7 linked regions of the Homo sapiens genome follow. The protein of the gene in region 4 purifies or fractionates together with the protein of the main gene of each other region. This does not show direct contact. Each region holds a gene or a part of one and is shown on either strand. Other genes may lie near its edges. The genes, in order: MICALL2, TNS3, EIF4H, MAT2B, PDIA6, SEPHS1 and GMDS.

The links.
Region 1: the proteins of MAT2B (region 4) and MICALL2 purify together in Homo sapiens (co-immunoprecipitation; one large-scale study listed by IntAct). This does not show direct contact.
Region 2: the proteins of MAT2B (region 4) and TNS3 fractionate together in Homo sapiens (co-fractionation; one large-scale study listed by BioGRID). This does not show direct contact.
Region 3: the proteins of MAT2B (region 4) and EIF4H fractionate together in Homo sapiens (co-fractionation; one large-scale study listed by BioGRID). This does not show direct contact.
Region 5: the proteins of MAT2B (region 4) and PDIA6 fractionate together in Homo sapiens (co-fractionation; one large-scale study listed by BioGRID). This does not show direct contact.
Region 6: the proteins of MAT2B (region 4) and SEPHS1 fractionate together in Homo sapiens (co-fractionation; one large-scale study listed by BioGRID). This does not show direct contact.
Region 7: the proteins of MAT2B (region 4) and GMDS fractionate together in Homo sapiens (co-fractionation; one large-scale study listed by BioGRID). This does not show direct contact.

What each region holds. Positions count from the first base shown.
Region 1 is NC_000007.14:1,435,471-1,438,970, forward strand, and holds part of MICALL2 (MICAL-like protein 2), read right to left. Parts: coding exon 3,370-3,500; exon of another isoform or gene 2,884-3,369; coding exon 2,819-2,883; intron 2,751-2,818; coding exon 2,627-2,750; intron 2,511-2,626; coding exon 2,420-2,510; intron 2,139-2,419; coding exon 2,065-2,138; intron 1,387-2,064; coding exon 1,272-1,386; intron 1-1,271. UniProt on the Homo sapiens protein: Effector of small Rab GTPases which is involved in junctional complexes assembly through the regulation of cell adhesion molecules transport to the plasma membrane and actin cytoskeleton reorganization.
Region 2 is NC_000007.14:47,572,112-47,575,611, forward strand, and holds part of TNS3 (tensin-3), read right to left. Parts: intron 1-3,500. UniProt on the Homo sapiens protein: May act as a protein phosphatase and/or a lipid phosphatase. Involved in the dissociation of the integrin-tensin-actin complex. EGF activates TNS4 and down-regulates TNS3 which results in capping the tail of ITGB1.
Region 3 is NC_000007.14:74,184,356-74,187,855, reverse strand, and holds part of EIF4H (eukaryotic translation initiation factor 4H), read right to left. Parts: intron 246-3,500; coding exon 58-245; intron 1-57. UniProt on the Homo sapiens protein: Stimulates the RNA helicase activity of EIF4A in the translation initiation complex. Binds weakly mRNA.
Region 4 is NC_000005.10:163,512,119-163,515,618, reverse strand, and holds part of MAT2B (methionine adenosyltransferase 2 subunit beta), read right to left. Parts: coding exon 3,423-3,500; intron 2,065-3,422; coding exon 1,950-2,064; intron 1,778-1,949; coding exon 1,625-1,777; intron 1-1,624.
Region 5 is NC_000002.12:10,788,786-10,792,285, forward strand, and holds part of PDIA6 (protein disulfide-isomerase A6 isoform d precursor), read right to left. Parts: intron 3,141-3,500; coding exon 3,010-3,140; intron 2,049-3,009; coding exon 1,934-2,048; intron 1,105-1,933; coding exon 964-1,104; intron 197-963; coding exon 112-196; intron 1-111. UniProt on the Homo sapiens protein: May function as a chaperone that inhibits aggregation of misfolded proteins. Negatively regulates the unfolded protein response (UPR) through binding to UPR sensors such as ERN1, which in turn inactivates ERN1 signaling.
Region 6 is NC_000010.11:13,331,294-13,334,793, forward strand, and holds part of SEPHS1 (selenide, water dikinase 1), read right to left. Parts: intron 2,679-3,500; coding exon 2,524-2,678; intron 1-2,523. UniProt on the Homo sapiens protein: Synthesizes selenophosphate from selenide and ATP.
Region 7 is NC_000006.12:1,927,606-1,931,105, forward strand, and holds part of GMDS (GDP-mannose 4,6 dehydratase), read right to left. Parts: intron 2,626-3,500; coding exon 2,498-2,625; intron 1-2,497. UniProt on the Homo sapiens protein: Catalyzes the conversion of GDP-D-mannose to GDP-4-dehydro-6-deoxy-D-mannose.

The sequences.
Region 1 (3,500 bases), on a different chromosome or scaffold from region 4:
GACCACACCGGTGACCTGGGACAGGAGGGCCTGGGCCGACCACACAGGTGATGTGGGACAGGAGGGCCTGGGCCGACCACACCAGTGACCTGGGACAGAAGGGCCTCGGCCGACCCATGCCAAGGCCCCGTCACGCTCCCAGAGGGTCTCATAGAGGTGGACTTCAGGTGCCGACCCAGAATGCCATGTGCTGGACCCCTCATGAGACGAGACAGGAAAGCTGTCGGGGACAGTCACACAGTCCGTGCAGGAGCCAGGAGACGCACGTGGCCTTGGAAGTTCAAGTTAAAAACTAAGACTTTGGCCGGGCACGGTGGCTCACACCTGTAATCCCAGCACTTTGGGAGGCTGAGGCGGGCGGATCACGAGGTCAGATCGAGACCATCCTGGCTAACATGGGGAAACCCCGTCTCTACTAAAAATCTAAAAAAATTAGCCGGGTGTGGTGGCGGGCGCCTGTAGTCCCAGCTACTTGGGAAGCTGAGGCAGGAGAATGGCATGAACCCTGGAGGCAGAGCTTGCAGTGAGCCGAGATTGCGGCCACTGCACTCCAGCCTGGGCGACAGAGCAAGACTCTGTCTCAAAAAAAAAAATACAAACAACAAAACAAAACAAACAAAAAAAACTAAGACTTTACGGCCAGTTACGGTGGCTCATGCCTGTAATTCCAGCACTTTGGGAGGCCAAGGAGGGCAGATCACCTGAGGTCAGGAGTTCAAGACCAGCCTAGCCAACATGGTGAAACCCCGTCTCTACCAAAAATACAAAAAATTAGCCGGGCATGGTGGTGCGAGCTTGCTACTCAGGAGGCTGAGGCAGGAGAATCGCTTGAACTCGGCAGACGGAGGTTGCAGTGAGCCAAGATCGCACCACTACACTCCAGCCTGGGCAACAGGAGGGAAACTTCGTCTCAAAAAAAACAAAAACAAAAAATTAGCCGGGTGTGGTAGTGTGCGCCTGTAATCCCAGCTACTCGAGAAGCTGAGGCAAGAGAATCATTTGAACCTGGAAGGGACAGGTTGCAGTGAGCCAAGATCGCACCACTGCACTCCAGCCTGGTGACAGAGCAAGACTCTGTCTCAAAAAAAAAAAAAAAAAAGACTTCAAAAAGTCCCCGATGGCCACATGTGGCCCCTGGCTACTGTACCAGTCAGCATAGACAATAACCGCCTGGTCAGAAAGTTCTACGGGGCTGGCTGACCCTGAGGGCCGGGAGCATGGACCAGGCGACCTGGCCTGGCTGGGAGGGGCCCCCGGCACCTGCCCCTCACCGGAGCCGGTCCTCGTCCAGCGAGTCCACGATGTCACTGCGGTCGTTCACGGTGCTCACGTACTGCTCCAGCAGCTCCTGCTCCCGCCGCCGCTCCTGCAGTGACTTCAGAGCCTCTGTGGGGATGGCTCGTCAGCAGGAGCCCCCCCCACCACTGCCATGCCCCTCACAGGACACAATGTCCCCACCACCCAAGCGCCAGGCTCCTCTTTTGGAGGAAGAAGGTGGGGTCTTGGGGGGATCCGGAGCAGAATGAATGAGTGAATAAGTGAATGAAGGAAGGAACGGCCACGTCAGAGCCCGTGTGCTGGGATCCTTCCCCATCATCTCGCAGAAACACCACTCGCTGCAGAGATATGGACACTGAGGCTCAGGGCGTCGCTGTCCCTGCAGCACAGCAAGGAAAGGGCAGAGGCAGACGGCCTGGGCCTGTGCCCTCAGCCAGGGCACCCTGCATCACGAGACAAATGCCTATGGCTCGCCCTGACTGCTGCTACACTAAATGCCTTGTGCGAATTGATTCGTTTAATCCTCACAACAGCTGCGTGAGGTGGGTGCTACAAGCATCCTCACTTTGCAGAGGATGAAACCCAAGCACAGCAAGGTTAAGTACCTTGGCTGAGGACACACAGCCAGGAGGTGGGAGATTTGAAACTCAAACGTGGGCTCGCCTGGCTCCAGGGAAGGTCTCACCACCAGGACAGTCAGGTGGCCTCACAGAGCCGGCCCCCAGACATCCTGGGCTCCGCGGCATCCCTGGCTGGGGCCCCTTGGCTGGCGCGCGGGGGACGCACCGGGCTTGGCCATGAGCCGGCGCAGCTCGCCCTCGATGTCCAGCTGCTGCTCCTCCAGACGCTGGGCCTTGGACCTGCCGCACAGACACGCGTCTGAGGCCTGACTCTGCCGCCCTGTCCCCCGCCTGGCCCGCCCAGCCCGCAACGAGGTCCTGGACCTGCCACACAGACACGAGTCTGAGGCCTGACTCGCCGCCCGTCCCCCGCCTGGCCCACCCAGACCGCAACGAGGTCCTGGACCTGCCGCACAGACATGCATCTGAGGCCTGACTCTGCGCTCCTGTCCCCCGCCTGGCCTGCCCAGCCCGCAACGAGGTCCTGGCCTTCGAGGAGGGGCCCACGGCTGGGCTCTCACTTGTACATCAGCTCTGACTCCTGTCTCAGCAGAAGCTGCTTCTCGTGAATGAGCCAGAACCAGTCCACCATGAGGCTATCCTCAGCGTCATCTGGGGAGAGGAGCCAGCTGGGGCAGGGGGGCCCGCCAGAGTTCATGGCCCCCAGCCCCAGGACTGAGGGTGTCTGTGGGAGTCGGGCTGGCCCAGGGCCAGGCCGAGGCGCTCACCTCCCTCGGCCGCCCGCAGTCGCTTCTCCAGCTCCACGCCGCGGAGCTCCAGGGCGTCCAGCCGCCTCTCGATGTCCTGCAGCTGCCTCTGTATCTCCTCCGGGGAGAGGTAGTCGGGGTGCAGCTGGGAACGGAGGGGCGGTGAGGATGCCGGAGGGCTGGGCCCCTGCCCGGCTCCCCACCACTACTCACCCTGACTGGGGAGGTCACCGTCTCGCCAGGCAGAGCAGGGACATTGGCCGGGGACAAGGGTCTCCCTGGAGAAGGAGCAGGGTGAGCCTCTGGGACCTGGGCCACCAGGCCCAACGTGACCAGGACACAGCTTGGAAGGAGCCTGACCTCAGCACAGCACAGCTGGCCCCAGCCCTGCCTCCCTAATGCCCCACACGCCCACTGGACTGCCCTGACCCAGCCCCACAGACACCTGAGTGGCCTCCAGGCCCAGCCCCACCCTGCACCCTGCCCTCCTCCAGGTCAGCAACACCCCAGCCACCCCAGTCCCTCAAGCTGCCAGAAGCAGACATTCCATCATCACCATGAGTCTGTAACAAGGTACTCTGAAACAGCTAGGGTCTCTATTCATGAGGGCGGGCCTGGGGCACGGGGCTGGGTCCTTCCTCCAGGCTTTCCCTCCATTCTAGGTCCTGTGAATGCATCCTCCAAAGCCCCAGCAGGCATTGCCTCCTCAGAGGAAGGCTCCCTTCACGTACACCCCAAACAGCAGCGGTGTCTCTGGGGCTGACCTGGTTTGCCCTGAAGGTGAGGTTTCTTCTCCTCCTCCTTCCAGCTCTGCACTCGGGCTTCCTGGCCAGGGGGCTCCGGCCGAAGCCAGTTGTCACAAACGTCGAGGCTGGCAGGGACGGCCAGTCTCCTG
Region 2 (3,500 bases), on a different chromosome or scaffold from region 4:
ACAAGCTGAGCTGATGTGGAATGGGCATGTTCTAAAAGAAGCAGCACTGACAAACATCTTTTACTCACAAATAGCCCGGCAGCCGAGGGACCATTTGGAGTAAGGCCATCCCTCCAGGGCGTTCTGAGAAGTCACTACAGTCATAAATGGGAGGGTGACACCCAGAGACCGGCAACGGCAACGCCTAGGTCGGGATCCAGGTTTGGGAGAACCATTCGCGCGGTAGTCACACACACACTATGCTTCTCACGCCCACTGCTGCAAACACCTTCGTGGGAAGAGGAAAATGAATGATCGTGTGTTCTGTTATCCTGTGAGAAGAGTGAGCCTTTAAAAAGTGAATAAACACCATTCCAGTTGTCGCAAAATCTCTACTAATAATAAGCAAAATGCCTTAAAAGCACAGTATGCTCTCGATGACCTATGTTTTGGATTATTCCTATTTAATGGAGGTGGGGGTGGGGAGTTAAAGAGCAACACATGATCGGGTGCAGTGGCTAAGGCCTGTAATCCCAGCACTTTGGGAGGCCGAGGCGGGCAGATCGCCTGAGGTCAGGAGTTCGAGACCAGCCTGGCCAACATGGTGAAACACTGTCTCTACTAAAAATACAAAAATTAGCGGGGCGTGGTGGCACACGTCTGTAGTCCCAGCTATGGAGGCTGAGGCAGAAGAATTATTTGAACCCGGGATGGGGAGGTTGCAGTGAGCTGAGATCGTGCCTGGGCGACAGAACGAGACTCCGTCTCAAAAAAAAAAAAAAGAGCAAAACATAGCAACTCTGTGTGTTGCGGGTTACCTGTCTCACTCAAATTTTTCATCAGAATAATCTGGTTACACCTGAATCCTTGCCAGTGGAAAATGAGAAAGGCCTCACAGGGATATGTGGGGAGTTGCCACCAGGGCTGCCCCAGAAATCAAGGGTCACGTGTGGCCCAGGCTTGGGAAAACATTTCTCAAACCACGTGGTCCCAATGCAGGCTGGATCTCCAGAGGTGGGGCCCACCCACCAGTCCTTCCCTCGGAAAGAGACCACGGCCCCAAGGACTGAAGCCCAACCAAGTAACTTAACTATTCATTATGCTAATATGCCCTTTGTTGAGGACCCAGGAGCCAACGCCCTGATACAAGCCAGCAGGGCAATGCCTTCACCCACCTCACGAGCAAGCCTATTCTTCCCTTATGGGCTGTGCTCTTGGAAATTTCTGTGCAGACTCTCTCCACCTCCCACCCTGGGGACACCCTGCCGCCCTCCACGCTGCCTCCCACCAGCCCGCTAGGTCGCTGGGGCATTGGTCTCAAATCTACAAGCGCCATGGAAAGTTGTCCAGGGCTTTGCCACAGTTCTCCGAAAGGGTGAAACACCCTACCTTGTGTCTTTGTATTCTTCTTTGCCTTCTGCAAATCCCCTTTGCTACTCCAGAACACAGCAGGTGGCCCTGCCCAGGGCCTCTGCCCACGCTGCCCCTCCATCGCGACGGGTCCTTCTGCAAAGTCGCCCAGGATTTAGTCCCTCACCTCCCCCAGCCCAGCATCCTCTTGGAAAGAAACACCAGTTGACTCCAGATAGAGCAACCCACCACCCCGTCTCTGGGCCTGCAGGCCTGCCCGGCCAGGGACCTCAAGTAATCCAGAGGAGAAACATTAGGATGAGTCTGCCTCCTCCTTGAGCCCCCAAATCCCACCAATTCTGCAAATGCCCACGTTGGAAAAGATGCCAGTAATTCTGGTTCAACATGTTCCAAGGAGGGGAAAACGACAGCCTGCTGTTGACATTCCTGATTTGGAATTGTGAACACATTCTTAGAGGGTAAAAATTAACCACCATCAGTTGGGGAAGGCATTATGGGGAGGGCATTATGGCTGCACTTCAAGGACTGATCACAAGAACCGCCTCACTCCAACTGCCCAGGGCCTGCATCGACGTTTTAACAGAGCCAAACCAGAGCGAGCCCAGTTCTGGACCGTTCCCTCAGAAAAGCAGCCGAGGAAACCCTGAGTAATTGCACTCATAGATCATAGGCTCTGGCATGTGGTTCCCAGACTGAACCATTTATCCAAATTAAAACCATTCTCCAGAAACAAAATCAGACCCTTTTAATTGAAAATAAAACCAAGCAACCCCGAAGGCTCTTTTTTTTTTAAATGAAAGACATTCTTCCTGCTTTCTCATCCCATTAATCACAGAGTTTACACAATCTGTCAAAATAGCTTGGTAAGAAGTCTCCCTCTTCCTTTTCCTGCAGGCCTGGTTTTTACCCTGGGGGTGATAACCTAGCCATGTTTAAGGACAGCGGGTGGACACCGTGAGAATCCAGCCAGCACCCTATGTCTCAACTGCAATTTGACCATATATACTAAGGAGTTCCAAAAAGCTTGTGCTCACCAAAAAAAAAATGGAAAGCAGGGACTTATACACCCATGTCCATAGCAGCATTATTCACAACAGCCGAAGGGTAGAAGTAACTGAAGTGTATCAACAGATGAATGGATAAACAAAATGTGCTATTCATACAGACACACACACACACACACACACCCCCACACACACGGTATTATTCAGCCTTAAAAAGAGAGAAATCGTGACACATGCTACAACATGGATGAAACCTTGAGTACAGTATTCTAAGTGAAATAAACAAATCACAAAAAATACAAATACTGTATGATTCCACTTGTATGAGGCACCCGATGTAGTCCGTTTCACAGGGACAGAAAGTAGAATGGTGGTTGCCAGGGACTGGGGGGAGGGGAACATGGGGAGTTAGTGCTTAAGGGACACCGAGTTTCAGTTCTGCAAAATGGAAAGAGTTCTGGAGCTGGAGGGTGGTGATGGCTGCACAACGTGAAGGTTCTTAATGTCGCCTAACTGCCGCAGTTAAACATGATTAAAACGACAAAGTTCATGTTATGCATGTTTTACCAAAGCTTAAAAAAAAAGATGTTTGTATTCTTTGATGCCAAAGAGTCTGCTAGAAATCCTTTCAAGAGCATGACTAGCTACGATCTGCCCAAAGACCTATGTGCAAGCATAACACAGGATGTAAATGATCAATGAACAAATAGTGAAGTCCAAATATCATGGTACATCCACATACTGGAGTACTATACTGTCATCAGCAGTCATATTTATGCAGAGCTATTTCTGGATTGGGAAATGCTTATACTGCCACATTGACTTTAAAATGCAGGATACAAAATAATACATATGGTATGATCTCAGCTTGGTAAATTAAAAAAGCACAGAAAACATATGGCACACAAGAAGGCTAAAATATGAACCTCTGTGGAGGTGATATTAGAAGGAATTTTTTCCTTTTTCCTTAGCATTTCTCTATCTTTTCCAAGTCTACAATGAGCACATATTACAAGAAAACTATTTTGTAGAAAAATAGTCAAAAAGCAAATTAAGAAGCAAAGATACGGCCGGGCGCGGTGGCTCACGCCTGTAATCCCAGCACTTTGGGAGGCCGAGGAGGGCGGATCATGAGGTCAGGAGATC
Region 3 (3,500 bases), on a different chromosome or scaffold from region 4:
CTTCCCATCCTCCCCTACACTTTACAGTAATATACAATAAGAATCCCCCAAACTCACCTTTAAATTTATCTGTGTCTTTGTCTCTGACTAGCCGTACACTCCTTATGCTGAGATCCTTAAAGATAGCATCTATGTCGCCCTGAACCGTATTGAAAGGTAGATTTCCTACGTATGCTGTGTAGGGGGGCTCTGTGGGCAACTCCTTCTGGCTACGGGAACCATGGCCACCAGCACTGCCGCGGGACCTAGGAGGGGAGACAAACAGGATTCAAGTGTGCCCAGAGTGGAATAAGCAAAACAAGTAAAGCGGTCTTCCGCTGAGCTACGCCGCCAGCGCCCCAGGTGAGGCACTCTGCTCGATGTACCACAAGACTGTTACAGAGAATGGCTGGAGAAACAAAAAAAAAGGAAAAGAAAAATTTTTTGAGACAGACTGTCACTCTGTCACCCAGGCTGGAGTGCAGTGGCACAATCTTGGCTCACTGGAACCTCTGCTTCCCGGGTTCAAGAGATTCTCCTGTCTCAGCCTCCTAAGGATGCTGAGATTACAGGCATGTGCCACCACACCTGGCTAATTTGTGCATTTTTAGTAGAAACAGGGTTTCACCATGTTGGCCAGGCTGGTCTCCAACTTCTGACCTCAGGTGGTCTGCCTGCCTCACCCTCCCAAAGTGCTGGGATTACAGGTGTGAGCCACCATGCCCAGCCCAAACGTAACACACCTTCCTAAGACAACTGCTTCTCTCCTATTCACTCAGAATCTGTATCTGCAGTATTTACATCCTAAAACCTAAGCAAGTACCCTCCTTCACACACCGTGGTTCTAAGAAATACAGAAATGGACAGTCTAGAAGTAATGTTGTATTCAGAAGAAGGATTACTGAAGTTGTTTACGTTTAACACATTCATACATAATAGAATTATTTCTCCTACCGCTTGAACCTGGGAAGCGGAGGCTGCAGTGAGCCAAGATCGCACCACTGCACTTCAGCTCACGCGACAGAGACTCCGTCTCAAAAAAAAAAAAAAAAAAAAAAAAAAAAAAAAAAAAAAAAAAAAAAAAAAAATTTCTCCTTGTTGCCTGATTATGGGCATAAGAATGTCCTAATAAAAATTTTAGATGTCACACAGCAAGTACTGACGTACCTAACACTCTCGTGCAATACTTCACAGGGTCCTCAAATACATGCGTATGGCGTGCATTACCAATCCATTTCAACCTCGATGTCATCTCCTCAGCTGTATCAAGCGTCGTTTACTCTGCATAGGTATTGGTTTAAATCTAGCCTCTGTCACTTACTAGCATATGACCTTGAGAAGTTATTCAACTTCTCTAAGCTTTATTTTATTTGTAAAACTGAGTTAATCCTAATACAGCATTTTGGGAGGCCGAGGTGGGTGGATCACTTGAGGTCAGGAGTTCAAGATCAGCCTGACCAATGTGGTAAAACCCTGTCTCTACTAAAAATACAAAATTAGCTTGGTGTGGTGGTGCATGCCTGTAATCCCAGCTGCTGGGCAGGCTGAGGCAGGAGAATCGCTTGAACCCAGGAGGTGGAGGTTGTAGTGAGCCCATTGCACTCCAGCCTGGGCGACAGAGCGAGAGTCCATCTCAAAAAAAAAAAAAAGACATCAGAATATAGTATAAATAGATTATTATATTAAACGATATTTGCCATAAGAATGCCCCAGGAACGACTTAAAGTCGTTAGAAGTGAAGTGCCAAGATGGCCAACATTTGTTTTCAAGCAGGTCAGCATAAAGGGCATGTGTGCCGGTATACAGCAAGGATTCAGCAAACAAGGCAGAATAGTCACTTCTGCATCCACTAGCGTCATCCAACTGTACCATTATTTCAACCTTATTGTAGATTTGAAAATTTCCAAAATAAAACGTTTGGAAAACTCAGGAGGAAAAAAAAATTAAGGGGGTGATTTTTTTTTGAAACAGACATTTAACCCATTTCCTGTTTGCTCCAAGAATACCGTGCTGGCAGCCAACTGCAGTTTTTTTTTCTAAACGGGAAATGCGTTCAAATAAATGAGATCCTTCACAACAACCCAAGACCTGCCCAAAGTCACCCTCTTTGCAGGGGAAATATTAATATCCATCTTAGAGAGCAACCTGGTCTTTCATCTACATACTGCCAGAAACACAATGGAAATTCCACTTCTTCCTGAAGATAAATTCCAGGTGTCTTGCAGACAAATATTATTCATTAAAGCATTTTTCTAAAGTAGAAGGGTCAACCAAGCTGTGATGATTCTTTGATGGTTAAAAAAAAAAAAGCTTTTAAGTTTCATAATTCACAATTCCGGTACTTTCCAATAGGAAGTTCCACGTTCTGTTCTAAGACCACCAGAAAATAGGTTTACAAGTGAATTGCATCCTACCTGCCCACTTCTCCCATCTTTTCGGGCCTAGTAAATGTGACTTACTTTGCATTTCAATAACCTTTGCCAATAGTACTCTATCGCTGATATCTCCGAAATCATAAATCCTAAAATATTTTCAGTAAGATACTATTTAGGACGGGATAATAAATATATGAGTTACAGTATAAAGCCGGGCCCAGTGGCTCATGCCTGTAATCCCAACAGTTTGGGAGGCTGAGGCGGGAGGATCACTTAAAGCCAGGAGTTCAAGACCAGCCTGGGCAACACAGTAAGACCCCATCTCTATAAAAAATACAAAAAATTAGCCGGGAGTGATGGTCCACACTTGTAGTCCCAAGCTACCTGGGAGGCTGAGGTGGGAGGATCACCTGAGCCCAGGAGGTTGTTGCTGCAGTGAACTGTGATGGCACCACTGCACTCCAGCCTGGGTGACAGAAGGAGACTGTCTCCAACTGAAGAAACAACAACAACAACAAAAAGGCGGGGCACAGTGGCTCATACCTGTAATCCCAGCACTTCGGGAGGTCAAGGTGGGTGGATCACTTGAGGCCAGAAGTTCAAGACCAGCCTGGCCAACATGGTAAAACTCCGTCTCTACTAAAAATACAAAAACTAGCCAGGTGTGGTAGCACACACTTGTAATCCCAGCTACTTCAGAGGCTGAGGTGGAGCTTGCAGTGAGCTGAGACTGTGTCACTGCGCTTCAGCCTGGGCTACAGAGCGAGACTCCATCTCAAAAAAACAAAAACAAAAAAACACAAAAAACAAACAAAAAAGCACAAAAAACAACAACAAAACCAAACAAACAAAAAACAAGATACAGTATAAACATGTGGAAAACCATAAAAATGGAGGGTCAATGTTAAAAACAGTTTAAATTCATTACTCAACATTAAACATCTAGTGATGCGTAATGATGTTAAAAGACTGTCTTGTATGTAAGCAGCTCACAGTTGTGTGGGACGTATAAAACACATGTATATATGCAGGTATGTTTGTGTGTATGAATGTGTAACATATACATAAAAACTAAAAAGGAGGGTGAGGATGAAGAGAGATGATAAACTCTCGGGTGTTTGATGTAGTTGCTAAGTAAGGAAAATG
Region 4 (3,500 bases):
AAAATAAAAGCAATAAAGGACATTTTTGGCATAAATGAGAAAATTCCTAAATAGATTTGTATTTGATTACAGTACCATATTAATGTTAAGTTTCCAAATGTATGATAACTGCACTGTAATTATGTGAAGAACATTCTTCTTGTTAGAAGATAAAAGAAAGGTAAAGTATTTGGAGATGAAATTCAACTAATTATCAATGGGTCTGGCAAAAGCAAACATATAAAACAAATGTGACAAAACATCAACAATTTGTGAATCTATGTGAAGGGTATATGAGTGTTCACATTAGTTTTACAACCACTCATTAATATTTAGATTTTATAATGGTCCCTGCTGATGGTATACAATAGTTAACACTTTAACTGCAAATCAAACATTTTCTTTTAAATTACATGACAAGAGAACTTAGATACTGCTATGGTTTGAATGTTTTTGTCCTCTCCAAAAATTCATGTTGAAACTTAATCCACGAAGCAACAGTGCTGGGAGGTGGGGCATTTTGGGAGGTGTTTAGGTGGTCATCAGCACTCTGCTCTTATGAATGGATTAATGCCATTATAAAAGGACTTGAAGGAAGAAGCACATCCCTTTCTGCTCTTCTGCCGTGAGAACACAGCATTCCTCCCCTCCAGAGGACCAGAAAGACCCTCACCTTGATCTTGGACTTCTCAGCCTCTAGAACTGTGTGAAATAAATTTCTGTTCTTTATAAATTACTGAGTTGTTGGTATTCTGTTATAGCAGCACGAAATAAACTAAGACAAATGTATTCAAGGATGATTTCAACAGAATAATTTATAATACAAGAAAACTTTTTAAAAAACTAAATGTCCATTAGTAAGGTATTCTACACTAGGGCTGCTTCTCAAGGCCATAGTACAGTCTAAGGCAGTAGTTTTAGTGCAGGGGACCATTAAATTAAGTACTACGCAGCCACTGATAGGAGTAAGATATCCCAGAGTAGGTTCCATGTGTACTAAAATGCAAAGATGTTGAGGGAAAAAAAACAGGTTGTGAAACAACATGCATACATTTTTTGAAAATATATAAAAATGCTTCCACACTTAACCATATTTGGTGTTTATCTCCCTGAGGCAGCATTTATGAGAACTTTTGTTCTTAGTAATTTTACATTTTTTCTAAGGAGTGTATACTTTTTATATATGGAGATGTGTGTTATACACAAACTCACATACAGGAAAAAAGAAACACCATAATAGAATGTTAATACATACAACATACATATAACAGAATACATAAAAACAAAATACATACACATATAACACAGTAACATACATATAACAGAATACATAAACAGAATATCTCACTCTAAGAGAAATTATACTGCCCTGTTTTTTGAAAATGAGTTACAAAAGCTTGTATTACCTGACTTGTTTTCTATGTGTAAAGATGAATATGTAAACACTGATAGTGGAAACTGTCTTGAAGGATTCACAAAGTAGTTATCTCTTAGAATTTTTTATTTTCTTTATTAACTATATTCTAATTTTTCTCTAATGATTCATATTCATTGACTTTTTAAATTTAAAACATATATATGTGTATGTATAAATGATTTTTAAAGTCTTCAAAAACAATCAGGGGCTAAATAGATTAGGTCTTACCTAGATTGTTCTCCAGGACAGCCTTTTCTCCATCTAATTTTGTTTTGCCATACAAATTTAGGGGAGCTGGTATGTCTTCCTCTCTGTAAGGTGGATTTGTTCCATCAAATACATAATCTGAGCTAATGTAGATGAGAAATGCTCCAACAGCAGCTACAAAAAAAGAAGACAAATCTATTAAATGTTTACATGACATTACTCTTTCATGGAATTTAGAATGGTTTTTCATGATATATAAAAACAAATAACCATCTACAAAACCTTAATTTCTAAAAACTCAGCAATCACTTAATATTTTATGAAAATTTTATAAAGTCATCATTACCTGCTTCCTTTGCTAAATTCCCAGAAGCATCCACATTAAGTTGAGAGGCAGCATCTGGCTGATTTTCTACAACATCTGGTCTTCTCTCTGCTGCACAATGTACTATAACATGGGGCTAGAAGTTAAGCATTGACGTATTTTTAACTCAAAATAAAATGAAAGAGGTATTACAGCCTTCTTAAAGTTAATTCAGAGAAAAATGTGCAGTAAGTCAACATTCTTTCAACTAAGAATAAATCATTGTAATTTCTAATGTAGTTTTGTCATGCTGCTTCTTTTCCCCGCAAGGTTCAAACTTAAAATATTTATAGGCACTGAAAAGAGTATTTCATAATATGCAGACACAAACCAGGAAAAAAACTGTCAACAACTGTATTTCTACTCTGGTGTGACGGTTCATGCATGTAATCCCAACACTTTGGGAGGCTGAGGTGAGACAATGCTTGAGGCCAGGAGTTCAAGATAAGACTAGGCAACATAGTGGTTGGTACTCAATCTCTACAAAAAAATTTAAAAATCAGCCAGTCGTGGTGGCATGAGCCTGTAGTTCTAACTGTTGTGGAGGCCGAGGCAGAAGGATCACTTGAGCCAAGGAATTCAAGGCTACAGTGGGCTGTGATCGATCTACCGTACTTCACCCTGGGCTACAGAGTGAGACCCTGTCTGAAAATAAAACAACCATGTTTCTAGGCTGGGCGCGGTGGCTCAAATCTGTAATCCCAGCACTTTGGAAGGCTGAGGTGGGTGGATCACGTGAGGTCAGGAGTTCAAGACCAGCCTGGCCAACATGGTGAAACCCCATCTCTACTAGAAATACAACAATTAGCCAGGTGTGGTTGCGCATGCCTGTAGTCTCAGGTACTCAGGAAGCTTAGGCAGGAGAATTGCTTGAACCCTGGGAGGCGGAGGCTGCAGTGAGCTCAACTGCACCACTGCACTCCAGCCTGGGCAACAAACCAAGATTACGTCACAAAAACAAGAACAAAACAGAAGTCTTTCTAAATCAAAACAAGTTTTATCCCCCAATTTGGACAAAAGGAAAGAGCTATCATTTATGCAATTAACATGATTTAAATATCTAATAAATCCATGTCAAAGGGAGAATAGTATCAATGATACCGAAAACCTCTCTGAGCCTGCTCCCTCAGCCCTAAAATGAAAATAACTATTTTGCAGTGTTGTGAGGTTTACAGTAACATTTGAAAACCATTTGCAGAGAAAGTATTACTTAGAAGGCACTCTATAAACATAAGCATTTTATAAAATGTCTCATATTTGTCTTTGTCAGCGTGTCAAAATTTAACTTTAAGGTTTACATATACCATGTCATGCTAAATGAAAAAAATGCTACTGCATAATACAACTTTAGAGCTTTCAAACATAGTAATTTCCTTGAGAGCAAGGATAGTTTCTGTATCATCCAGACAACTCTTAATATTGTTCATGTATATCTTAAAATAACCTAAATCATACCTGAAAATCATGAATGATGTGATGAACTGCATTAGAATCCAACAGATTAACCTGTTCAAATTTTGGTCTTGCTCTTCT
Region 5 (3,500 bases), on a different chromosome or scaffold from region 4:
AAGTTTTTTAAAGGTAAAGATAAAGGAGTCCATAAAATTAATCCATTTAGAAAGTATTCTCAGAGCATCTAGCATAGAACAGCTAAGGGAAATCATTTCCGTCTGTCTTACCAGTATCAAGGATATGGGGCAGCACAGCCACAACACAGAGCTGGTGCTCCTCACACGTCCTCTTGGCAATGTCCTCGTTGATAATCTGTGGGACCCAAAAGACAAGGGACAATCAGGAGGCTGCATGATACAACACCTAAAGGTAAGCTGGCAAACAAGACCTTCGCACCGTCACTTTCATTGAAAACATTTCTCCCACGACTACTTCCTCGTATGGAAACACCTGGAGGCATGTTCTCTAAGAGGAGATTTTTCTGCTACTGATTCTTAAGCCTGTGGAAGCTGTGGTGGTGGAGGTGGGGTGATTAGCACACATACAAACATCTCTGAAATCGCAATGCCTGGACACAGCCTGGCTCTGCCACTTACTTGTTTAAATAGATTATACTTACATGTATTATATGTCTTATATGTTTATACACACTTGAGGCTCTGTGCCTCAATTTCCCCATATATAAAATGGAGATTAAAAACAGTATCTACCTCTCAGTGTTCATGTGAGAATTAAATGAAAACAAAACAAAACAAAACAAAACTATACAAAGACACCAGAACGGTGCCTGTTACATGATTAGTACTTGATAAATGTTCTATTACTTTGAGAATGATAAGCAAGAGTGATTGAATACACTCTATCTTTAAGAAGCTCGTATTTCTGTTCAGTGTAATTATTCTAATGCTAAAAGTTATGAAAAGCAATTTATCAGACTTTTTTTCCATTTCAAAGTATAGAAACCACTTTAAAGAGAGTATCTTTAAGGGCATAAAATGAACAGTGTGTCACACTGCTTTAACATTCCTCACCATCAGCTAAAAAAGCTTTCTGGACTACAAGCAGTTGAAGTGGTTTACCTCAAGCAGCTCAGGAGGTGGGGCGTTATCAGAAAACAAATCAAGGGCCCGGGACACGATGTCGGATCTTGTCCGCCCACCGTCATAATCCACAGGAGACTCGCCTTTCTGAAATATCTTGATTGTAGGAAATCCTCTAATCTATTAAAAAAAGGTCAGAGGATAAAATCCAATTAACACTTAATGCAAAATAACACAATCTTTACAGTTTCTAAAACCACCTTATAGGTAATTTTTTTTTTTTTTTTTTGAAGCAGTCTCACTCTGTTGCCCAGGCTGGAGAGCACAGGTGCAATCTCAGCTCACTGCAACCTCTGCCTCCTGGGTTCAAGCAATTCTCCTACTTCAGCCTCCTGAGTAGCTGGGACTGCAGGCACACACCACCACACCCGGCTAATATTTGTATTTTTAATAGAGACGGGGTTTCACCATGTTGGCCAGGCTGGTTTTGAAATCCTGGCCTCAAGTGATCCTTGGCCTCCCAAAGTGTTGGGATTACAGGTGTGAGCCACCACTCTGGCCTTATAGGTAATTTAATGTAACAAAACTGTTCTCCAGACTGCACAGATTTCAAAGGAATGACTCACAGAGGTCAATTATCAATCAGGGAGTTTTAACAGTCTGTGAAGTTTAGCCAATCATATTCAAGCCCTGGTATATAATTAACACAAAGTACCTGCCCTAGAACAAATGGACCAACTCACAACAGCCATATGAGCAACTTGAATAAGTCTGGGCAAGCTGAAACCTCACATTAAGTATATACCAGAAGCAGTGTGACATTAGGGGGAAAAGTTGACAGTCCTGAGTTTCAGACTTGTTAGTTATGACAATAAAGTGACTTTATCTCTTCACTTACAAAATGGTTTAAACATCTCCTTTACTACCTCATAGGGAGGCCTGGAGTATTGGAAGAAGTAACGAAACACCATGTATTTCACAATGAAATGAGCCTTATAAGTATACTCACCCCGTATCGGGAGGCCAGAACCTGATTGACTGTAGCATCCACAGCTGCCAGTTTCACTTTTCCTTTCGTCTGCTCTTTTACTTCTGAAGCTGCGGCAGCCCACTCTGGCTCTAGGCTATAGAAAAATATTCGTTTTGTTTTGTTTCTTTGAGACACAGTCTCTCTCTGTTGCCCAGGCTGGAGTGCAGTGGTGCAATCATGGCTCCCTGCAGCCTCAATCTCCTGGGCTCAGGTGATCTCATTTCAGCCTCCAACATAGCTGGGACTACAGGTGTGTGCCACCACCCACTGTTAATTTCTACATTTTTAGTAGAGATAGGGTTTCCCCATGTTGCCCAGGCTGGTCTCAAACTCCTGGCCTCAAGTGATCCACCTCACCAGGCCAAATACTTGCATTTTAACTTGCAGCCCAAACACCTTTCTTTTCTTTTCTTTTTTTTTTTAAGACAGAGTCTCCTTCTATTATCCAGGATGGAGCGCAGTGGTGTGAGCTTGGCTCACTGTAGCCTCTGCCTCCCACAATCAAGAGATTCTTGCACCTCAACCTCCCAAGTAGCTGGGACTACAGGCACACGCCACCACACCCAGCCAATTTTTTTGTATTTTTAGTAGACATGGGGTTTTGCTATGTTGCCCAGGCTGGTCTCAAAGTCCTGACCTCAAGTGATCCGCCTGCCTCGGCCTCCCAAAGAGCTAGGATTACAGGTGTGAGCCACCATGCCTAGCCTATACTTTTTAACTGATCTGTGCATTTCTGCCCAATCCCCAATTATGTCACACCTAGAAAACATTTTGTGTGTGGCTTTACTAAAGATACAATGCTACCCTTCACATGAGCTTCCCATTCCACCACTGCCCCTAAATCCAGACATGAGCCAGTCCCTTGTTAATCTTTGGCAATAGGAGAGTGGAAGCTCTTGGCGCTAATGTCAATGTTTAATATTCACTTAGAGTCAGAGTTTTGCTGGAAGAGATCTTAGTGGTGATCTATTATCTACTTCAGCTCTTTCAAAATAAGCTAATGAATGTACTGAAAACACTGTGAATGAACAGACTACTTAGTAGAAGGCACTTACTTTTTGCAGTGTCCACACCAAGGAGCATAGAACTCAACCATCCAAACATCTTCACTGTCCAGAACATTCTTATCAAAGCTGTCGTCTGTCAGCTCAATCACATCCTTCTTACTTGAACTATCACTTCTGCCCTGTCATTTATGACATTAAACATCAAACAATTGGGCCAAGAAGAACACTTTTCCTGTTTTAAATAATAACACTACTGCTACATCTTAACAAAGTTTTAGGGTTTTTCTTTAGTGAATAAAATAGTGAAAACGGTTGTATTCAAATTGGGTACATTCCTCAGCACTGTAATTTTTGCTTGGCAAATAGTCTTTTACTTTCAAGTAATTATCAATACATTCAGTACAACACATAACCTGTACCTGAATGCTGTCACCAGCTATTTTTAGAGAGAAACCTCAACATGGCTCAAAAAACCACCTGAACAACACTGTTCTAATTCAGACTCAAGTACAGCTGCTGCTTCATCCTAGGATGTTATG
Region 6 (3,500 bases), on a different chromosome or scaffold from region 4:
TATGTGTGCATGCGTCTTTACAGCAGCATGATTTATAATCCTTTGGGTATATACCCAGTAATGGGATTGCTGGGTCAAATGGTATTTCTAATTCTAGATCTTTTTTTTTTGAAACTGAGTTTCACTCTGTCACCCAGGCTGGAGTACAGTGGCACGATCTTGGCTCACTGCAACCTCCGCCTCCTGGGTTCAAACCACTCTCCTCAGTCTCCTGAGTAGCTGGGATTACAGGCGCCTGCCATCGTGCCCGGCTAATTTTTTGTATTTTTAGTAGAGACAGGGTTTCACCATGTTGGCCAGGGTGGTCTTGAACTCCTGACCTCAGATGATCCACCCGTCTTGGCTTCCCAAAGTGCTGGGATTACAGGCATGAGCCACCACGCCCGGCCAAAAGACTGACTTTTCTTAACAAGACATCAAACATGGAAAGTGACAACTTGGTTAGGAGAGAAACTTCTCCAAAGAAGATACACAAATGGGTAGTAAGCACATGAAAAGATGCTCGGCCTCATCAGTCATCAGGCAGACACAAATCAAAACCACAAAGACATTCCACTTCACACCCAGTAGGCTGGCTAGAATCCAAAAGACAGACAGGAAAACAAGTACTGGAGGGGTCATAGAGAAATTGGAATCCTCATACATTGCTGCTGGGAACGTAAAATGGCGCAGCCATGTTGGAGACCAGTCTGATGATTCCTCAAGTTAAACATAATTACCACATGACCCAGTCAATTCTTAGGTATACACCCAAGAGACCGGAACTTATGTCCACACAAAAACTTAGAATGTTCATGGCAGCATCATTCCTAATAGGTGGAAACAACCCAAAGGTCCGTCACCTGAGGAATGGCTAAATAAAGCAGGGTCCATCCATGCAATGGATTATACAGCCATGGAAAGGAATGCGATACCGATTCATGCTACAACACGGATGGACCCGGAAAACATTCCGCTATGGGAGTGAAGCCAGACACAGCATGTCATGCTGCACGATTCCATTTCTATACAATGTCCAGAACAGGCAAATCCTTAGAGACAAAAGCACATTCTTGGTTGCCAGAGGATGGGAGCAGGAGGGAAATGGGAGTGAGCTACAGGGCTTCTTTTTGGGGTGATGAAAACATTCTGGAATTGGATAGTGGTGATGGGTGCACAACCTTGTCAATACTAAAAACCAACACATTGTGTACTTCAAAATGCTGAATTCTATGTTATGTGAAATTTTGTTACGTGAATTATACTTCAACTAAAAAACCTAAAATGTCAGCCGGGCGCGGTGGCTCACGCCTGTAATCCCAGCACTTTGGGAGGCTGAGGCGGTCGGATCATGAGATCAGGAGATCGAGACCATCCTGCCTAACATGGTGAAACCCCATCTCTACTAAAAATACAAAAAATTAGCCGGGCATGGTGGCAGGTGCCTGTAGTCCCAGCTACTCGGGAAGCTGAGGCAGGAGAATGGCATGAACCCGGGAGATGGAGCTTGCAGTGAGCCGAGATCATACCACTGCACTCCAGCCTGGGCGACGGAGTAAGACTCCGTCTCAAAAAAAAAAAACAAAAACACCTAAAATGTCTTAAAAATAGGATTAAAATACTGACACATGCTACAAAATAGATGACCCTTAAAAGTATGCTAATACTATGCTAAGTGACAAAATCCAGGATGGAGCAGGAGTGAACAGTGAGAGCCGAGGAGGATGGGGTTTCTTCCTGTAGCAATGAAAACATCCTAACATCAACTCCGGTAATGGCTGTACAACTCTGAGTATACTCCAAACCACTGACTCTTTAAATGGGTGAATGGTATAGTACGCAAATTATATCTTAATACATCTATTTTTTTTTTTTTTTGAGATGGAGTTTCGCTCTTGTTGCCCAGGCTGGAGTGCAGTGGCGCGATCTTGGCTCACTGCAGCCGCAGCCTCCTGGGTTCAAGTGATTCTCCTGCCTCAGCCTCCCAAGTAGCTGGGATTACAGGCATGTACCATCATGCCTGGCTAATTGTGTATTTTTAGTAGAGATGGGGTTTCTCCATGTTGGTCAGGCTGGTCTCAAACTCCCAACCTCAGGTGATCCACCCGCCTTGGCCTCCAAAAGCGCTGGGATTACAGGCATGAGCAACCGCGCCCAGCCTTGCGTTCTTGTCTTTTTTTTTTTTGGAGACAGAATCTTGTTCTGTTGCCCAGGCTAGAGTGCAGGGGCATGATCTCAGCTCACTGCAACCTCCACCCCTGGGGTTCAAGCGATTCTCCTGCCTCAGCCTCCAGAGTAGCTGAAACTACAGGCTTGCCCCACCATGCCTGGCTAATTTTTGTATTTTTAGTAGAGACAGGGTTTCGCCACATTGGCCAGGCTGGTCTCAAACTCCTGACCTCAGGTGATCTGCCCGCCTCGGCCTACCAAAGTCTGGGATCATATGTGTGAGCCACTGCACCTGACCTTAATACATCAATTTTTAAAAAGAGAGGACAGAGAGAGAAAAACAGGTCAGGTGATATGAAACAAAAATCAACTTACATGATAAATTCATTGGGTTGGCAGACAGTGGTAGCCACTCCTCCCAGGACAATCCAGGGGTTTAGTACTGTTTGGCCGCCTGTTACAGATGTTCCTGCTTCCTCAGCTGCGTCTTTAAAACCTTGGATAATCAGAGGCATCACTTTATCCCTTTCCTAAGGTTGAAAAAGGTACAAATAAAAAGTCAAAGAATTCTGTTCAAAACCCAGAAAAGAAGGTTTTTACACTTACAGTTATAAAAAGAACCATAAAATCCTAAAGGAAGTCCTCAAAGTTTACAGACAGGGAAGGTTGTTAGGGGCCAGGCATAATCGCTCACGCCTGTAATCCCAGCACTTTGGGAGTCCGAGGTGGGCAGAGAGCTTGAGCCCAGGAGTTTAAGACCAGTCTGGGCAATGCAGACAGACCCCTTTCTCTACGAAACATGTAAAAATTGCTGGGTGACCGGGCACAGTGGCTCATGCCTGTATTCCCAGCACTTTGGGAGGCTGAGGCGGGCAGATCACCTGAGGTCAGGAGTTTGAGACCAGCCTGGCCAACATGGTGAAACCCCGTCTCTACTAAAAATACAAAAATTAGCCGGGTGTGGTAGCATGCGCCTGTAATCCCAGCTACTTGGGAGGCTGAGGCAGGAGAATCGCTTGAACCTGGGAGGCAGAGGTTGTAGTTAGCCAAGATCGCATCACTGCACTCCAGCCCTGGGCACAAGAGTGAGACTTCATCTCAAAAACAAAAAAAAAAAATATTGCTTGGTGTGGTGGCATGTGCCTGTGGTCCCAGCTATTCCGGAGGCTGAAGTGGGAGGATGTCTTGAGCCCGGGAGGCTGAGGCTGCTGCAGTGAGCTCTCATCACACCACTGCACTCCAACCTGGGCAACACAGGGAGATCTTGTCTCAAAAACAAACAAAAACAAAAGCTAGAAAATATTTCACATTGTCATCATTTTATCCAATGCTGGAAGATGTTCTAGACAACA
Region 7 (3,500 bases), on a different chromosome or scaffold from region 4:
AGATGTGGACTACACTCGCAGCAGCGCTAGCTTGGCATTTGGGAAGTGTTGTGCCCAGATGTGGACTACACTCACAGTGGAGCTAGCTTGGCATTTGGGAAGTGAGATGACAGCAGCGTCCTTCTTTCAGATCTACTCGTTGACACAAGACTTCCTCCTTACTTACTTAACACTCTCATTCATTTTCATGAGACTTTTTGGCCTGTTTCTGAAATGTCACCTCCTACCCCGGCCAATTACAAAGGTTTACACATGTTCATTTAAAATCTATGGAAAATAAAGACAGTATAAAGAAGAAAATAAACACAACCTGTAAAAAGCACTATCAACATTATGGTATACTGTTTCCCTCACTATCAAAATCTATTAGATTTCCGAATCCTTTTTCACCTACGTGCAAAATAATAAAATTGAATGAAATTTAATCGATTTGGTTCCTTGAACTTGGAGAAGAGTTTGGATAAATAATACCTATATAGGGCCAGGTGCAGTGGCTCAAGCCTGTAATCCCGGCACTTTGGGAGGCCAAGGTGGGTGGATCATGAGGTCAACAGATGGAGACCATCCTGGTCAACACAGTGAAACCCCGTCTCTACTAAAAATATAAAAATTAGCTGGGCGTCGTGGTACGCGCCTGTAGTCCCAGCTACTCATGAGTCTGAGGCAGGAGAATCGCTTGAACCCGGGAGGCAGAGGTTGCAGTGAGCCAAGATTGTGCCACTGCATTCCAGACTGGCAACAGAGCGAGACTCTGCCTTAAGAAAAAAAAAAAAAAGAATACCTATAGCTTACTATGTAGCTCTATGCAGATGCTGATGGCTAGAAGGCTAAACAATAAATAGATATTATTGAGAAAATAATGTATTTTTACATAACAAGCCTCATATTTTTCAGTAGGTAAGGTCATTTAGGTTAGACAAAAGAAAGTTTTGGCTTCTCTTGCCAGTATCTACTTTCTCATAATTTCTAAGCGTGAACCTATATATTTTTTGATGTGATGTTCTGAAAATAAATCTAAGGATTAATGTCATAAAATGCTTCTTTGTAATTATAGCTTAGAAGCACATATTTAAAAGATTTAGGCTGGGCACGGTGGCTCATCCCTGTAATCCCAGCACTTTGGGAGGCTAAGGCGGGTGGATCACCTGAGGTCAGGAGTTTGAGACCCGCCTGGTCAAAATGGTGAAACCCCATCTCTGCTAAAAAAACAAAAATTAGTCGGGTGTGGTGGCGCATGCCTATAGTCCCACCTACGCAGGAGGCTGAGGCAGGAGAATCGCTTGAACCTGGGAGGCCGAGGTTGTAGTGAGGCGAAATCATGCCACTGCACTCTAGCCTGAGCAACAGAGAGAGACTCTGTCTCAAAAATAAATAAATAAATAAATAAATAAATAAATAGATCTAAATGTTGCACTATTCAAAATCTAAAGTCAAAGCTAATTATTTTGTGCATAACAGAAATCAGTATTAGCTGTTCAAACACACACACATTTTTTATTGTTATGACCAAAAACAAGATGGCAGGTGAGCCTCATCTCTGCACTAGCAAACAAACTAATTGTTTGCTTTCTTTTGTAGGCATTAAAGTTTCTTTTTGAATTGCATAAATGAACAAGAAAGCTGGGTCCAGTTTCCTAGAGAGACATCATTCAGGACAGAAATAGGCTCATGAGCACAGGAAATCTGTGAGCACTTGAACAAGGACAGGCTACTCCAGGGAAAGGACAATGTCTCTACCATGCTTGCTCATGTCTGACCACAGAACCAACATGGATATTTAAAAGCAGGGAGATCAGGGCAAAGTAAAAGGTAACCATTTGTTTATAAAAGAAAAATCATACTACTTGCGTATGTAATATATGCAAACCCAAAACAGCATGTCTAGGAATGCCAAGAATGAAAATCTGAATTTCCCTTTAACAATATCCATTATTTCACAATAGAATCATTATTAACATCTTTCTCTATCTCTCTTTAATAGGTAAAGCTCAACGACATGCAATATAACATGTTAAGAAGTGTGTGATGTAATAACCAGACTCTTCAGCAGCAGAAAGCAGAGTTCCATAAGAATATTACTCTTGGCGGGACTTAGTAGAATAATGTAAGTCCAAGAATCTTGAATTATATACATTGAAATGAGGCAGTATTTCTAGAAGATCTGAGAACTAGTACTTTTATACCCCCAAAATAAAGAGGAGCACCATTCAAACACTTTTTCCATCTATCTATCCATCATCCAGCACAAATAATTGGAAGAGTATTTGTGAAAGTTTTCCTCATTCAAGTACCATTCAGTGTAAGCTACCTGTACGTCTGAACCACCAATCCCTGAACGACTGATCCCTGAAGTGAAAGCAGCATGAGTGTAAACATACCTGCCTTGGCAAAGGTTTGTATGCCCCCACCTCTAGGTCACACTTTTTCACTGTACGCTTGGCATTTAGAATATCAATGGATACGGGTATTTTCAAGAATGTAATGTGTCAGTTCCTACCTCCACATAGTCCTTGGCATGGCCCCAATCTCGTTTGGCATCCAGATTTCCCAAACTGAAACATTCCAGTTGTCCAAGGTAAATCTTAGCTACTGACCGGCTAATTTTTCGAGTAACGAAATTAGCTCCTAAAAAGAGGCAAAAGATGTAGTATCAGTCAAGTGCACTTGACACATTTAACAGTTTGGTGAACCAAACCCGATTTCGGCCTCTGGGCATTTCTTTCATTCTACACTCCCAGCCACCCTGTTAAAACAATAAAAGAAAAGAAAAAGAGAAAAGATCATTAACTGTCATTTAGACAAGTTAAGAAGCCCTAATTCCATGTGTCACATCAGCTCTACTTTCAGAACAAACGTTTTTCTTTGGGGGACATCTTAACATTCCTAATTTGTTGCTTCAATATGCAACCCAGGCATTAGGCCAAAGAAAAGCTGTTGGAATGCCAGTTTTTAAACAGAAAATTCAAAAGGGTTGTATAAAGGGAAATGCCAGAATGGACGACAGACATCTAAGACCACCCTGATTTTTTTTAAGAACACAAACATCATATATTCCTATTAATAAAGCTACTTTGGGACTCATGGGGAGAGAAAGAAACATAGCTTAGTTCACAGGGTAACTAGTTAAAGGAAACAAGAAAGGAATTTATTTAGGCTGCCTTTCTCTTAACAAAATAAGTGGTGATGGCTCTTATTTAGAAACCTGCACAGCCATCCAAATGATATGATATGGCCCCTGGGCAAAAGTTTCTCTGTACTATACTTAAGGCAATGCCACTTTCCAAATTCATTTCAGTGTTATTTACAGAAAGGGCTCCTAAATTTTGTGTAATATTTTGAAATGATTGGTTGAAAGGGGCCATATCTTGATGAAAGCACTGAAATTGTTTTAATGTTCTCTGGTCTTTAATGAAAACTCTATCTGCTTTTTCAAAGATCACAAAGTTAAAAGGCACTTCTGAGACAGTTTTACCTTGTTATCTAGGTAAGGTTATGAGAAA